2 separate regions of the Homo sapiens genome follow, and region 2 is linked to region 1. A link means that fine-mapping ties the variant in region 1 to the expression of a gene that starts in the linked region. Tissue or cell type: sun-exposed skin. Region 1 holds a variant in brackets; the other region holds the start of a gene. All regions are shown on one strand. Distances are between the middles of the regions.

What was found. PIP is the estimated chance that this variant, and not a neighbour inherited with it, causes the effect.
Region 2: ARHGAP44 starts here. The variant in region 1 is fine-mapped to the expression of ARHGAP44 in sun-exposed skin (GTEx, PIP above 0.99).

Annotation. Positions count from the first base shown.
Region 1 is chr17:12,973,866-12,981,967 of GRCh38, forward strand. ARHGAP44 (Rho GTPase activating protein 44) reads left to right here. Exons shown (of 21, transcript NM_014859.6): 18 at 224-445; 19 at 6,193-6,368. Among named protein-coding and RNA genes, the nearest start is that of ELAC2, 40 kb to the right of the region's middle. RefSeq lists a silencer at 3,407-3,701. The variant C/CT (reference allele first, on the strand shown) is at 4,508.
Region 2 is chr17:12,785,897-12,794,000 of GRCh38, forward strand. ARHGAP44 (Rho GTPase activating protein 44) reads left to right here and starts at 3,602. Exons shown (of 21, transcript NM_014859.6): 1 at 3,602-3,995. The coding sequence starts at 3,943. It overlaps ARHGAP44-AS1 (ARHGAP44 and MYOCD antisense RNA 1), which reads right to left and starts at 4,388. Exons shown (of 2, transcript NR_104607.1): 1 at 4,247-4,388. RefSeq lists a silencer at 3,529-3,878.

The DNA.
Region 1 (8,102 bases):
GGCCGCTCTTGCCAGGACTGGGCTGCCCAGGGCTGTGTCTTGGCCGCCGGGAGCAGCCAGGGTGCTGGGAGCACAGCCCCCAATGCATCGCTTCCCGGGCCCCCGGGGTGCTAAAGCTGCGCTGCTCTTCTCCCAACGCGGACCTGCTTGAATGTGGGGGAGGGAGCCTGTCTCCTGTCATCTGTTACGCGTGGGTAAGCGGTGTCTTTGTGTCCCTCGCCAGCATGGGTGTGAGGGTCATGGACACAAACTGGGTGGCTCGAAGAGGCTCCTCGGCCGGTCGGAAAGTGTCCTGCGCCCCGCCCTCCATGCAGCCTCCCGCCCCGCCCGCCGAGCTGGCTGCGCCCCTGCCTTCGCCGCTGCCGGAGCAGCCCCTGGACAGCCCCGCGGCCCCCGCGCTCTCTCCATCCGGCCTGGGCCTCCAGCCTGGGCCCGAGCGCACCAGGTAAGCGCGGGCCACTGCCGTCCGGGCGGGCTGGTGTGCGGTGCAGGGGGTGTCTGGGTTGGCCGCACTGGAGGCCTCTTGGATTTCGTCGTTTCCCATGCCCCCGCCCCCATTTCTAAGCATTCATATTTGGCTTCTGCGTCGCGCTGGCACCAAGTCAGTCATCCACAGCTGCCTGGATTATCACACGAAGTCCAGTCTTCCCCAGCATAACATCGCAAGCAAGCAGAAGGTGGCAGCTTGCGAAGGCAGGGTGAAGAGTCTTAGGTTCCCCAACTCTGTTTTCCCCTTCCTCTGTCTTTGTCGTTACAGTGGCCCCCCATATCCGTGGGAGATACATGCCAAGACCCCCAGCGCATATCTGAAACAGCTGATAGTCCCAAGCCCTATATATACTGTTATTTTTTCTTATACACACATACCTGTGATAAAGTTTTAATTTATAAATTAGGCACAGTAGGACATAAGCAATAACTGGTAATAAAATAGAAGAATTATAAGCATATGCTGTAATAAAATTATGTGAATGTGGTGTCTCTCAATTTTTTTTTTTTTTCGAGATGGAGTCTCGGTTGGTCGCCCAGGCTGGAGTGCAGAGGCGCGATCTCGACTCACTGCAACCTCCGCCTTACAGGCTCAAGCGATTCTCCTGCCTCAGCCTCCCAAGTAGCTGGGATTACAGGCATGTGCCACCATGCTTGGCTAATTTTTGTATTTTTAGTAGAGATGGGGTTTCACTATGCTGGCCAGGCTGGTCTCAAACTCCTGACTTTAAGTGATCCACCCGCCTCGGCCTCCCAAACTGCTGGGATTACAGGCCTGAGCCACCATGCCTAGCCTGAAAATATTTTATTGAACTGTACGCACCTATTTGGACCACAGTTGACCACAGGTAACTGAAACTACAGAAAGTAAAACCACGGATAAGGGGGACTACTGTATCCTATTTTGAAGTTTACAATTTCTGTGTTTCTCCTTCTCTTTATAGTCATAGCAGCCACTTTTTTTTTTCTTTTGATGCCGCTAAAATGGGTGCAAGTCAGGGAATGAATGGAGGTGGCGGTTGTACTGGGCCTGATGACCTTTGCAGCTTGCCACATGGTTGAATTGCCATTATTTTAGGGGAAGGAAAAAGACAGGAATTCATTCCATGGGTAGCTTGATGAATATTAACTGATAACTTTCTCTTTTTAAAGATAAAAAGATGGCCGGGCACGGTGGCTCACGCCTGTAATCCCAGCACTTTGGGAGGCCGAGGCGGGTGGATCACGAGGTCAGGAGATCGAGACCATCCTGGCTAACACGGTGAAACCCCACCTCTACTAAAAATACAAAAAATTAGCTGGGCGTGGTGGCGGGCGCCTGTAGTCCCAGCTACTGGGGAGGCTGAGGCAGGAGAATGGCGTGAACCCAGGAGGCGGAGCTTGCAGTGAGCCCGGATCGCGCCACTGCACTCCAGCCTGGGTGACAGCGTGACTCCGTCTCAAAAAAAAAAAAAAAAAAAAAAGAAAAAAAGACATGATTGCTGCCCTTAAAAAGTTCACGTTCCAGTGAGCAAACAGGCCCTGACAAATAATGACAGCACTTGGTTATGCATACCCAGGGTGGCAGGGGAGGAGACAGTACCTGGCCCTTCCTTGAAAGGGGCATGATCAGGGGAGGCAGATTCTGGATGTGAGAATTGCACCATGAAACAGCTTTGCTGTTTGTTTCTATCTTTTCTCAAACAGCAATTTAGAACACCAGAAAAGCAATATGAAATCACATGCCACCGTGTCTCCTGTTAGAAGACATGGCATTCCTCCATGACCACTGCCAGAAAAGTTTTGGAGACTTTGGGAAGCTGAATCTTCTAACCCAAATCTTTCTCCAAACACACATGCATACACATGGACACTCATCCTCACACACCATCACCACCAGCACACAAACACACACCCACACCCACACCAACCCCCTACATGAGAGGCTTCCAGGCTTTTTTGTTTTATTTTGTTTAATGAGTAAAAAGTATTTTCACGGCCGGGCACGGTGGCTCACACCTGTAATCCCAGCACTTTGGGAGGCTGAGGCGGGCGGATCACCTGAGGTCAGGAGCTCGTGACCAGCCTGGCCAACATGGTGAAACCCCATCTCTACTAAAAATACAAAAATTAGCTGGGTGCAGTGGTATATGTCTATAGTCCCAGCTACTCAGGAGGCTGAGGCAGGAGAATCGCTTGAACCCAGGAGGCGGAGGTTGCAGTGAGCCGAGATGGTGCCACTGCACTCCAACCTGGGTGACAGAGCGAGACTCTGTGTCAAAAAAAAAAAAAAAAAAAAGTATTTTCACTGTAAAACCAGGAAATGACAAAGGGACAGGGGGTTAGATAGTCTTAGAGCATAGGAGGGGGCACCTGACCCTGGGCATGCTGGGTTGCTGTTGATGACTTCAACTCAGAGGATGCTCGGTCCTGGCTGTGTAATTGCTAGGCCACAGATGGACCTGAGAGATGCAGATGCGGGCACAGTGAGTTCATTGGAGAAGCAGAGTCTGAGAGTGGTGGGCCAGGTGAGGCCGACCAGGAGGAAACGGACCCACAGGCGGGAGATGGGCTGGGACTGCTTCCTTTTTGGACACTCCTCAGCTTCATCCTAGTTTCCCATCTTAGAAAGGGGACTCAGTGCCATATGGTATTTGGCATATAAATGATATTTCTAAAAAGTGCTCCTTGAAGATGGATTCCCCCAGGCTCTGAAGGCATTCCAGGAACATTCTCGGTGGGTGACCTTGCAGAGTTACTTGTGGGCAGGCAATGGCACCCTCTGGTTTCGATTATTTTAAAGCCAACTCACATTGCTCTATAGCCAAATGTCTTTCCCCTTTGCCCGGGCTGACCGGTTTAGTAACTTTTCTTTGGATGTTAGTGTTTTGTGTTTTACACCACTTTTTGTTCTCTCCCCGCATGGGTTTCTCCCAGTACAAACAGGTGTTCCATTGTTTTTGTTTGTGTTGTTTGTTTCTGTTTCCTGGATGTTTGCAGCCCAGATGATGTTCCCTCGAGTGGCCGGATTCTCGTTCTGGCTCCCCCTCCCCTGATGGCAGGCCCTTCCTTGCCTCTGACTGGTTCCCACCTTCCCACTCCCTACCCCAGGCCCCACCTTCAGTTCTTTCCCTGGCTCTGTCCAGCCAGGCTCTGCCTCCACATCCCGCCCAACTGCTTAGCATGAATGCTAACCCCAAAATTCTCCTTCCTGCTTCTTGGCACCAAGGTCATGGGCTGAGTCATGCATCTTCAGAGCTAACTTGTCCTCAAACGTGCCTTAAACATGCCTTGTTCAGGTAGCGCCCCTAGTAGCCGCCCTACGCCCCACCTCTCCCCACTGGGTCAGCTGCACCTATGCTGGAGAAAGAGGACAAGGCTAAGTGGGTAAATACTTGTTTCTGTGCTGGAGGAAGTGTGTCCGGGCCGGGCGTGGTAGCTCACGCCTGCAATCCCAGCACTTTGGGTGGCCGAGGGGGGTGGATCCTGAGGTCAGGAGATCGAGGCCATCCTGGCCAACATGGTGAAACCCCGTCTGTACTATAAATACAAAAATTAGCTGGGTGTGGTGGCACATGCCTTTAATCCTAGCTACTTGGGAGGCTGAGGAAGGAGAATCGCTTGAACCTGGGAGGCAGAGATGACAGTGAGCTGAGATCATGGCACTATACTCCAGCTGGGCAACAGAGCAAGACTCCATCTCAAAAAAAAAAAAAAAAAAAAGTGTGTTTCGTGGCAGGGAACAGAAGGAAGAGCTCATTCCTAGATTCCTTGGATAGATGTGTGTCCAAAGGAAGGAAGAAGAGTCTACCCACCCACAAGAAGCAATTTTTTAGTTTGCTGATTATGAGATGTTTTTGATTGGTTGACTGGCCTTCCTCTTGATAGTGGCAGAGATAGATGGAAGGGTAGGTAGATATTTGGCATTGATGCCCGGGTACCTGGTAACCTGCAGCCTGAGGTCCTTGTCCAGCCTGAGTGAGGCAAGGGTTTTCTGTTTCTGTTTTTCATGAACAGAATAGAGAAAGGAATTACTGCT[C/CT]TTTTGGTTCCTCTGAATAAAATGGTTTTTGCCCCTTGGGGAACTAGGTATAGTGTGTAAGACTCATCCCAAGTGGGAGAGAATGTGCCTCCACATTGAATGTGATCTTCCTTTTATTTCTTTGCATGAGGAAAATGACCTGTGCTTTGACGCTATGGGCTTCCCCGGCCCAGCTCCCTGCTCCCAGTCTTTCTCACCTCAGTGGACGAGAGTGCTCTATTCCTATTGGAATTTTCTCCAAATTAACACCTGGAGTTTCTAGATCAGTTTAGGAAAGAAATAGGCTGTGCCTGCCTTTTTTTTTTCTTTTCTTTTTTCTTTTTTCTTTTTTTTTTTGACAGGGTCTCCCTCTGTTGCCCAGGCTGGAGTGCAGTGGCACGATCTCAGCTCACTGCAACCTCCATCTCCCGGGTTCAAGCCATCCTCCTGCCTCAGCCTCCCGAGTGGCTGGGATTACAGGCACATGTCACCACGCCCAGCTAATTTTTGCATTTTTAGTGTAGACAGGGTTTCGCCATGTTGGCCAGGCTGGTCTCAAACTCCTGACCTCAGGTGACCTGCCTGCCTCGGCCTCCCAAAGTGCTGGATTACAGGCATGAGCCACCATGCCCGGCCCAGGTTGTGCCTGCTCTTGTGGGATAGAAACAGCCATTGCAGAGGATTTGGGTTCCCAGACTCTTCATGCCCCACCTGTGGGCATCAGAATCCAGGTAGGTTCTAGCACGGATGACAGATGGCTCCCAACTGTGGGGCATCTCCCCTGATTCACTAAAGGCCACCTGGAGAATTTTCTTGGAAAGGATTGAGAACACTGTGGGGGAAGTGTGGAGATCAATTAGTAATATCTACCATCAGCGTATCAGGATGACAAATCCCTGGTTTGTGGTGTAGAGTGAGGTGTCTTCTAATACGTGCTTCATCCTCAGAAGAAGGCTGAGGAACAGCCTTGCAGTAACGATGAATCCTCTTTAGGAAACCTGGTGACCTAGGGTGCCTCATTGTCAATTCCAGAGGTCAGAGGCCAGAGCCCTCACTGCCATCGACCTTCACCTCTCTTGAAGCCTGGGACTGGGACTCAAACTGGCCCACATTTAAGGGCATGGCCTGGATTTCTGTCCACCCTAGCTTCTGCTGGAATGGGTATTGAGTTTGAGGATGAGTCCTAGAATCCCTCCTGCCTGGGGGGTGGCTGGAGGCTCAGGGCAAACAGCTGGAGAGCTGGGCCACAAGCTTGGCAGCAGGAGTCCGTGTCATCAGCACTCGTTGGGCACAGTGGCCCTGAGAAGTCCTCTTGGCTACAGTAGGAAAAGCACTTTGGTGTTCCAGTTTGAGAATGTTCTAGAATTCCTGGGTTGATGGCAGGATACGGTAGAGGTGCTCAGGCCCCTGCCCTCACATTGCTCACGGTCTCCTTGAAGAGAGGAGGGCAGAGGCATGAAAAGGGCATTGGCAGTGAGTGCCAAGTGCCACAGAGATGGGGGCAGAACCCAGGCCATCAGAGCTCCAGGAAGGGCAGTCACCCCAAGGGGCACCTGCGAAGGTTTTAGGAAGGGGCCAAGACAGACCAGAGCTGGGACAGACTTGCACGGGGCCCAGAAGGACACACAGGGTGGCCATCGGCAAGGCTGGTGCTGCCGCTCACTGAGTTCAGGGCTTTTCTTTTGTCTCATGTGCTTTCGTTTCAGCACAACAAAAAGCAAGGAACTTTCTCCAGGCTCTGCACAGAAAGGAAGTCCAGGCTCCAGCCAGGGCACAGCCTGTGCAGGGACTCAACCAGGGGCTCAACCTGGAGCTCAGCCGGGCGCCAGCCCCAGCCCCAGCCAGCCGCCTGCAGACCAGAGTCCTCACACCCTCCGGAAAGGTATGGCCCTGCTTCCCTTCTCCTTGGTCTCAGGCCGGAGGTGGCTGTGACATTCCCTGAAGGCTCGTTTTCCTCTATGAACTTGGATATTGAGAAACTGTGTGGTTTAGTGACTAATTCCCATCTGGACATTAGAGCTTTGGAAGTTAAAAGGGATCCTTTCTCTATTATTCCTCAGTTTACTTATTTGACAGGTGGGCTCATTAGGGGCGTATAGAGGCCAGTGCTTCCCATACACCAAATGATGCCACCAGGGCAAAATTCATTGTCCACAATGATGTGTGTTTTCCAGAGACCTGCCGGGCCCTACCTCTGTCATTTGAAAAGCTGTATAGGGTCATCTACAGGAGTCTCCTTCCCCGCAGGGCAGCCTGGCACAGCTGCCTACCCCTAGATCACTCGTACAGGGTGACAGGAGGGAGTCAGGATAGCTTCTGTAGTACCTGAGTCTCAGCTCTGAATGGCCCAAGAATGGCCACACTGACCAGTTATTATCTCTTCAGATAATCACTTCCAAAAGCTAAAGGTATGCTCCATGTGACATTTCATAAATGGGGAGCTGTACTGAGCGTACTTATCTGAACCTTTTTGGTTTGTTCTTACCTGTGTCATCTCTTTGCAGAGTCTTTCACTCGTCTAAAATAATACATCATCCTGTGTGTTCTAATTTCAGACCACTCGCACTTCTAGGAGCGGCTTTTAACTCCTGGATTTGTCGAATAGGGCCCGGATTTAGCTCATCCACATGTGCCTTCATGACAGGCCCTTTTCCAGCCCCCTTAGTTCCGATCTGCAGTGGCAGTTTCATTCTCTTTGTCTGCCCTCACCAAGCCCGTGGATCTTATTCGATCCCTACTCATTCCTTTTGCATTCTACACAAATTTATTAAATCCTGCTATGTACAGAGCTCTGTGCTTTCCAGAGAGGAAGGCAATGATAAGGCAAAGGTGTTGGCACTGTGCTGGGAGACACTCAGGGTACTGTAAGGACACCTGGGAGCATGCTTTCTCGACTCAGGAGTTAGGACAGGTGGCCCAGCGGAAACGACATCGTGAAGGTTGAATAGGAGTTGGGCCAAAGTGCCGGCGTGAGATTTCAGCATCTCAGAGCATTTCTCCAGCACCAATGGTTTCTCCTTGGTCTAGATGCCATATTCTTGGTTATGTCTTTTTTTTTTTTTTGAGACGAAGTCTTGCTCTTGTGCCCCAGGCTGGAGTGCAATGGCACAATCTCGGCTCACTGCAACCTCCGCCTCCTGGGTTCAAGCGATTCTCCTGCCTCAGCCTCCCAAGTAGCTGAAATTAAAGGCGTCTACCACCACACCTGGCTAATTTTTGTATTTTCAGTAGAGATGGGGTTTCACCATGTTGGCCAGACTGGTCTCGAACTCCTGACCTCAGGTGATCTGCCCACCTCGGCCTCCCAAAGTGCTGGGATTACAGGCGTGAGCCACTGTACCCGGCCAGGCACCTCTTTGTTTTAGAGTCCTTTAACTGGCCGGACGCAGTGGCCCCTGCCTGTAATCCTAGCACTTTGGGAGGCTGAGATGGGCAGATTGCCTGAGCTCAGGAGTTTGAGACCAGACTGGACAACGTGGTGAAACCCGTCTCTACTAAAATATAAAAAAATCAGCTGGGCGTGGTGGTGGGCGTCTGTAATCCCAGCTACTCAGGAGGCTGAGGCACAAGAATTGCTTGAACCTGGGAGGTGGAGGTTGCACTGAGCCAAGATCGT
Region 2 (8,104 bases), 190 kb before region 1:
GATATGATATATCTGTCTTCAGTCTGCCTGCCCCCAACCTAATTGTTGACCATGGGTAAAAGCAAGGTGCATGCTACTTTCTCAGAGAAACCCACTGTAGCAGTCAGCTTAGACTCAATTATGTTACAGCAACAAACCTCTGATTTAAAACAGCAAAGATACCTTTTGCTGGGGGGCCACATCACTGTTCCACAGCATCCCCTAACTGGTTCATTGGCAGCGTTAAGAAGAAGAGGGCAGGATCACAAAATGACTCCTGAAACTTCTGCCCTCAGAAGAAGCGTAAAAGTCACCTCTGTGCATATTCATTGTTCAAAGAAAATCACATGACCGATCTTTACCTCAACAGTAAGGTAAAATAGAGTCCTTCCCATAGGGATTGGCAGTGAAATTTTTTGGGCATTAATAGTATCTGCACAAGCATCATCTACTTTTCTTCTCTCTTTCTCTCCCGCTTTCCAGTCCCCATCACCATCTTCAACATCTCACAGCCTGTAGGTTCTTTATTTAGACTAAGCAGGATGATATATGCTTTATAATCTACTATTTCTGACATAGACTATTAAAGCTCCAAAGCCTGTATTCTGGAAACTCAAAACTCTTTTCTTGAAGAACTCTATTCTGTCACATGTGTTTCTGAAGCTCTTGTTTCTGCACTATTATCCCTTCCCCGGGGTAGAAAGCAGAAAATGTACTAGCTGCTTCCTGAGTGAAGGAAGCATTCAAAGGAAGACAGAAAATCTGTGGAGAAGCCACCAGTTAATAAAACATTATTGGACCACACTCTGGCAGGGGAGGCTGCCAAAGGGATTTCCCTTTGGAACGGAAAAATCTTGGGATTGAAGGCAGGGGCTGGCATGATATTGGAGTTGGCTACCAGAGTTCTTGAGGATTAGTGCTAACAAGTAGAACTTTCTGAGAGGATAGTAATGTTCTTTATCTGTGCTGTCCAGTACAGTAGCCTTTAGCCACATGTGGCTCTTAAGTACTTCGAATGTGACTTGGGTGACCGAGGAACTAAATTCTGTTTTTATTTTATTTTATTTTTTATTAAACTTTAAGTTCTGGGATATGTGTGCAGAACGTGCAGGTTTGTTACATAGGTATACACGTGCCATGGTGGTTTGCTGCACCCATTAACCCATCATCTATATTAGGTATTTCTCCTAATGCTATCCCTCCCCTTGCCCCTACCCGCGACAGGCCCCGGTGTGTGATGTTCCCCTCCCTGTGTCCATGTTTTCTCTTTGTTCAACCCCCACTTATGAGTGAGAACATGCGGTGTTTGGTTTTCTGTTCCTGTGTTAGTTTGCTGAGAATGATGGTTTACAGCTTCATCCATGTCCCTGCAAAGGACATGAACTCATCCTTTTTAATGGCTGTATCCATGTCCCTGCAAAGGACATGAACTCACCCTTTTTTATGGCTGCATGGTATTCCATGGTGAAAATGTGCCACATTTTTTTTTATCCAGTCTATCATTGATGGGCATTAGGATTGTTTCCAAGTCTTTGCTATTGTGAACAGTGCCACAATAAACATACATGTGCATGTGTCTTTATAGCAGAATGATTTATAATCCTTTGGGTATATACCCAGTAATGGGATTGCTGGGTCAAATGGTATTTCTAGTTCTAGATCCTTGAAGAATTGCCACACTGTTTTCCACAATGGTTGAAGTAATTTACAATCCCACCAACAGTGCAAAAGTGAGGAACCAAATTTTGAACTTTAATTAACTTAAATTGCAACAACCACATGTGGCTAGGGGATACTATATTCAACAGTGCAGTTCTGGAAGTTACCAGAGATAGTGTTGCTAAAAGTCATACAGTGACCTTAATGTCTTACCGTTTATACACATAAAAAGCATGTTGTACTTTGCTTTTTAAAAAATCTCAAAATGGAAATAATTTCACTTAATATAGACATCATATTGACATTATAGGTACAGCATAGTTGGTTAAAAGCAAATAATGCCTTCATTTATTCACTGGCTGGAGTTGTCTGACCTAATAAGCAGAGGCTAAATTCACAATTAATTAAAGATTTCATGTTCATTCAGCCAAGACATGCCTCAAACCACTTTTTGTTCAGCTAGCCAGCAAGATACTTAGAGCCATATTTAGGACATCTTGCAACTATAATCAACATATGCAAAATATCCTATTTCAAAGAAGATCCTTCCTTTATAAGATTAGTAATTCTGTTGTATGAACAGGATTTTTCTCTATTATGCTAAATATAATCATTTTGTAGTAAATGAATACGGCAATGTACTATATGAAAATTTATATGTAATTTGATTATTGTAATTTAACAAATAGTTCTCTTACTGAAGATCAGGCAGCATATTTTTCTATTTAGGGATGAGGAAACAGAGGTTTGGAGAGGTTAAGCTGTTTTCCTAAGGTTATATAACAGGTATGTGGAATTCTGATGCAGGAACTCCTATCTGTTTAATCCAAAGTGCCTCACACCCAACAATACTGCTTTTACTTGATATATAATGATAAAACCTTGATATATAATGATAAAACCTAACTGCAATCACCAATCTTTTTCTTTTTTTTCTTTTCTTTTTTTTTTGTTTTTTGAGATGGAGTCTAGCTCTGTCACCCAGGCTGGCGTGCAATGGCGCGATCTCCACTCACTGCAACCTCCACCTCCCAGGTTCAAGCTATTCTCCTGCCTCAGCCTCCCAAGTAGCTGGGATTACAGGTGCCCGCCACCACGCCCAGCTAATTTTTGTATTTTTAGCAGAGACAGGGTTTCACTGTGTTGGCCAGGCTGGTGTCGAACTCCTGACCTCGTGATCCACCCTCCTTGGCCTCCCAAACTGTTGGGATTACAAGCGTGAGCCACCGCGCCCGGCTCACCTATCTTTTTCTAAGGATAGAGACCAAAGAAGCCACAACCCCTTCCAAGGAGTCAACTGACGCCAATGGGATGCTGTGGTGCAGGACACTTGGGGGGTGCTGCAGCTGATGCCCCTTGGTCTCCTGGTGGTGGAAGGGAAATGGGACTAGATACGAGATTGGCATCTAAGCCATACAAAAAAGCTGTCTCAGACAGGTTGGGCCAGTAAGCACAACGTCACTTATCTATATTGGCTTCTGGTTACCTAATGGGTTTGGTTTGGTAAAAATTAAGAATCAGACTTCTGGGATGCAAGCTATGCCTGTTCAAAATCTGCTGTCAGCCCCTGTGTTTCAAGCTTAACCTTGAACCTCATCATTAATCAGGTGACCTTAGACCGTTTTATCAGCCACGTATCTGCTAGCATAAATCTCCCTTCTGTGAATTCAGAACACTGATACCTCACATTCACTAAAAATACAATGAGAGACAGATGCTCACTTTCTTTATTTGCTGTTGTATTCTTGGTCCCACTTTGCCATTTTTAAAACAGGAAAACGTTTCCCTTACTCGAACGCTAAAGTGCAAAGCTGCTGGTGACGCTGCCTTCTCCCACCTCCGCACTCCACTGTCCTTGCAAACTTTGGACAGAGGAAAGGTGGGCACGGGGCGCGAAACTACAAGTCCCGGCATGCACGGCGTTCTCCGCACAGGCGCACGGGGACCGCCGGGCCAGCCGGCCAGCCAGCCTGCGGAGACTCCCGGGTCCCCGCGCCGGACTGGGACTGGGAGCAGGCAGCCCGGGCGGAGCGGGCCGGTGCCGAGGACGGCCCCAGGCATTGCTCTGCCCCGGGCATTGCGCGGCGCGCGTGAGGGGGATGCGGCAGGAGGCGGCGCGGCGGGAGGAGTAGGCGGCGGCGCCCTCGGGAGGGAGCTGCGCGCGGGCCAGACGGCGCCCGGAGGCTCCGCAGTGCCGCCGCCGTCGCCCGGGAGGCTCCGCGCGGGAGCCATGTAACCCTGCGGCGGGCTCCGGGCTGCTCCGTCCTTCCCCAGCTCCCGGGCTAGCGCGGCAGCGGGGCCACGATGAAGAAGCAGTTCAATCGCATGCGCCAGCTGGCCAACCAGACGGTGGGCAGGTAGGTCACCCGCGGGCACCGCTGTCGGTGCGCGCCCGCGAGGCTGCATCCGCAGGGGCGCGCAGGTGATGGAGCCCGCCCAGCCTCCAGTCCTCCTTGCCTCAGTCCTTTCCCCTGCACCAGCTCCCTCCAGGCGCCGCTCGCAGGCGCGACCCCTCCTCCCTAACTTCCCAGACCCCGGAGCTCTTCTCACTCGCCGCCTTCTGCTCCGGGCTCCGGTTGCCAAGCGCAAAGTGTGACGCATCCTTTACCTGCGTCCCCGGCTGCCCCTTCGCTTCGTCCTCCCTGCCTTTCCCCGGGACTCCCTTCTCCCTCTGGCCGCCTGTCTTCCTGGAAACAGGTGTTTGCTCTGATTGTGCTGGAGGCAGCCGAACCGCAGTCGGTCTCCGGAGATCTCTTCCCTCCCCTCCCCTGCGCCGAGTTCAGGGCTGCTCCCGGGTCCAGGGAAAGTGCTGGGCCTGGTCGGCCTGCCCCTCCCGCCGTGTTTGTTTTCAGGGACTATGACTGTACGAGATTCTGGATCACTTTCCTGGCCGGGTTTCTTAAGGCGTTTGGTGGGGGGAAAGGGTGAGGGGTGGGAGAGGAAGGAAGGTGCTGGTGGAATGGCGTTGCTGCCTGCTTGATGTTAGGACTGATTTCAGTGGAGGGAGGGAGGCTGCAAAAAGGAGGCCCAAGTCCTCGGGAAGATGAGATAAGCAGAGAATCGCAGCCAGGTAGGGGAGGGGGACAGAGGCCCCACAGTCAGAAGAGTCAGGCCCCGGGAAGCTGCAAGACCCCGCCTGCTGCCATCACGGTGAAAATGGGCTACATCTGGACTCCAGGAGCGGCTCTGCAGGGTGCCAACATCTATTAAGGTTACATAAAAATCCTGGTGGGTCGCTCCCAAGACTAGACATTCTTTGAACACAGGAGCGTTAGGTAGAAGGGATTTTTCCTGGAACCCCTACTCCTGGGGAGGGATTTCCGTTGCTGCTGTGGCAAAGGAATTCAGGTGTGCTGTTCTAAAGCAATCAGAAAGCAAAGAATCCAGCCTTGGGTGCAGTTCAAATGCAAGCTCAACACCTCGAGGGCTCTCCACTAGGTTTACGGAGAAACCGAATACCTTTCTTGGGTGGGAAGTGGAGCCTGAACTGGCATCTGGTAGGATGGGGGTGGGGACATCCCTGGGGAATAGGGGACATCTGAACTCCCGTCTGAGCATACTGCCCTAGTTACAGTGGGCATTTGAGGGCAGGGGATGCGGTGGCTTCTTATGCTTCCAGGGACTCCAGATGGTTTCCAAGTAACAATGTCTAAAATTGACTTGGATTCATTTTTCCTTCCCAAACACATGTGCTTTAACATGAGGGGGAATTTATGAATAGCAGAGTCAGATTAGCCCAGATTTCTGGCATGGTATTGCCACAGATATAGCCTCACGTGGACTGCCTTTTGATGTGTTGGATGCCGAGATAGTGTTTCCTGGTATTCGTTGTTTAGCAGATGACAGTCAAGCCGACCCGTCTTTAATGTCTTGGCTTCTTCGTCACCCTGCAGGCGGGCATTGGCCATCACCTCAGACCAGCCAAGTGACCAGGAGGCCCCTGACACTAGACTTGGGTTGCTGGTTTCTCTTGGTCTTGGGGTTTCAGTGCCGTGCTAGAATCTAAATGTTCAGAACATGTTTATGCCTCCTCCCTGGCCTTCCTGAAACACAATTCTTCTTTTTTTCAGGACCTGTTTTTAAATGGGGGAGATTTTTGCGCCATGGCATCATATCTTATTTTTCAGCCTCATCCATGGGGGGAATGCAAAATGGTGAGGGGAGGTTGGATTTCAGAAAAAGTGGTCTTAGGTATTGAGAGCACGTTCTTGGAAGTCCAAGCAGCTGGTTACCAAGAGGTTCTTTCCTCTTCTTTGTTGGGGCTCTGGTGGATGTTGGCCTATGGATGAATTCTGCCTTTCTCCGTTGGTAGCCATTGTGTTGTGCACTGGGCCAGGTGAGGGCCAGCCTGTATCGCTTTTGATGAAATCCAGAGCAAGCCTTTTAAAGCAAAAACCAGTTCATGTTACCTTGCTGCTGAAAAGCTTCCAGCGACATCTGATTGTGCTTAGCATCTCATATCTTGCCAGGGTTCTACAGGACCATCCTTGGTTGGCCTTTTTTCTTAACTCTTTTTCTCCCCATTCTCATCTCTTCACATTCATGGAGCTCTAGCCGTGTGGCCTTTCTTGCCCCAAACACACTGAGCTCATATCCACCTTGAGGATTTCGTTTTTACTGTTTTCCCATTTTTTTTGTTTTTTGCTTGGCTGAGAATGTGCTCCTTCCAAGTAGCTTTTTCTCATCATTTCAGTCTTGGTTCCAAGGCCTTCAAGAGGCCCTTCCTCCCCTATTTACCTCCAGCTCATCATTTTTTCATTTCTGGACAGCACTCATCACTGATTGAAACGCTTTTATTTTTTATTTTCTTGTCTGTCTGCTTCCAGCAGAATCTATTGATTGCTGTTGTATGCCTGTGTAGATAGTGCAATGCCGTTTAGACTACTGACTCTCAATCGGTGTTGATTGCCGAGATTAAAACGGTTTACCCCAGGGTCCGTGAGGGTCAGCGAGAGGGGCAGTATCTCCTCTATTATTGAGAATGTTTTGGGTCATGATCCTATGAGTATTGGAGTAAAAGAGCCCGCGGTTGCCTGTTAATTTCTTAAATCAGTAGAAGCACATAGGATTGGAATTTGGACTTTAGGTGTGCAGTTATAAAGCACTTGATTTTTATCCTTATATTTTTCTAAAGTTTTCCTCTTTCCGAGGGAGGACTAAGAGGACTTGAAAGTCCTTCCTCATGGCTCGCCTTCCCTAAGTTGCAGGTTCTGGAGTTCTGAATATAAAACTTAAAGTCATTTTAACAATGTAGGAGTTGCCCTACTTAAACATACTCTGCTGGGTTACTAGTACTTTCTCTCGAAGTGCTCACATCCAAGTCATATTAAGGGCGTCAGCGACTATGAAAAGATTTGATAAAACCCATTGTATTTAACTGACAAAAGTTTCAGCCCCTCCTTGGTCTGTTTCCTTAGTCTGCACGTGTTCCTTCTGCTTTGAACTTTCCCCTTTCTGTCCCTTCACTTCAATCCGTCCTTTGGGAAGCACTCCCTGGCCACTGTGTGCCTCATGGTTAGGAGCACAGGCTTTCCACTGGGACAGGTTTAGTTTGTTGCTGACTATGGAATCCAGAGCTTAATTCTCTGCACATTAATTTTCTTACTTGCAAAATGGGAGTAGTTAAGGATTGCACTGTGGTAATGTGGTAACCACAGTGATAACATAGATAACCTGTGAAAAGTACCTAGCAGTGCTCAGCACTAGGAAATGCTTAATAAATGGTAGCTACAAGTATCTCTGGGCAAATGTTATGACTGTTATTGAATTATATGCACTATGGCATATGTACCTTTATTAGATGTCTACTGTGTCCCAGACACTGCTCTGGTTCAGGGAGTATTGCAGTACAGGGCAAACAAAATTCCTGTTTGCCTGGAACCTGCATTCTAGGCCGGGCGTGGTGGCTCACGCCTGTAGTCCCAGCACTTTGGGAGGCCAAGGAGGGTGGATCACCTGAGGTCAGGAGTTCGAGACCAGCCTGGCCAACATGGCGAAACCCCGTCTCTACTAAAAATACAAAAATTAGCTGGGCATGGTGGCGGGCGCCTGTAATCCCAGCTACTGGGGAGTCTGAGGCGGGAGAATCGCTTGAACCCGGGAGGTGGAGGTTGCAGTGAGCCAAGCTTGCACCACTGTACTCCAGCCTGGGCGACAGAGTGAGACTCCATCTCACACAAAAAAAAAAAAAGGAACCTGCATTCTAAAAGCATGCTATGGTAATAATGGCTCACTTGTGTTATAATTTTTATCTTTTGTCATTTACTTTCCCCACTAGACTTTAAACTCTTTGGAGGCAGGGACAGCTGCCCTAACGCTGCCCTGTATAGAAGGTCCTCTGTCATTCTTTGGCAATGGAATGAGTAAGTGAACAAAAGATCCATGCGCTATAGATAGGGGAGTCTTTTGAAGTAGTTCAAAGATGGGGAAAGCTCCTGATACCATGTTTCTTTAACGTTGTGATGGT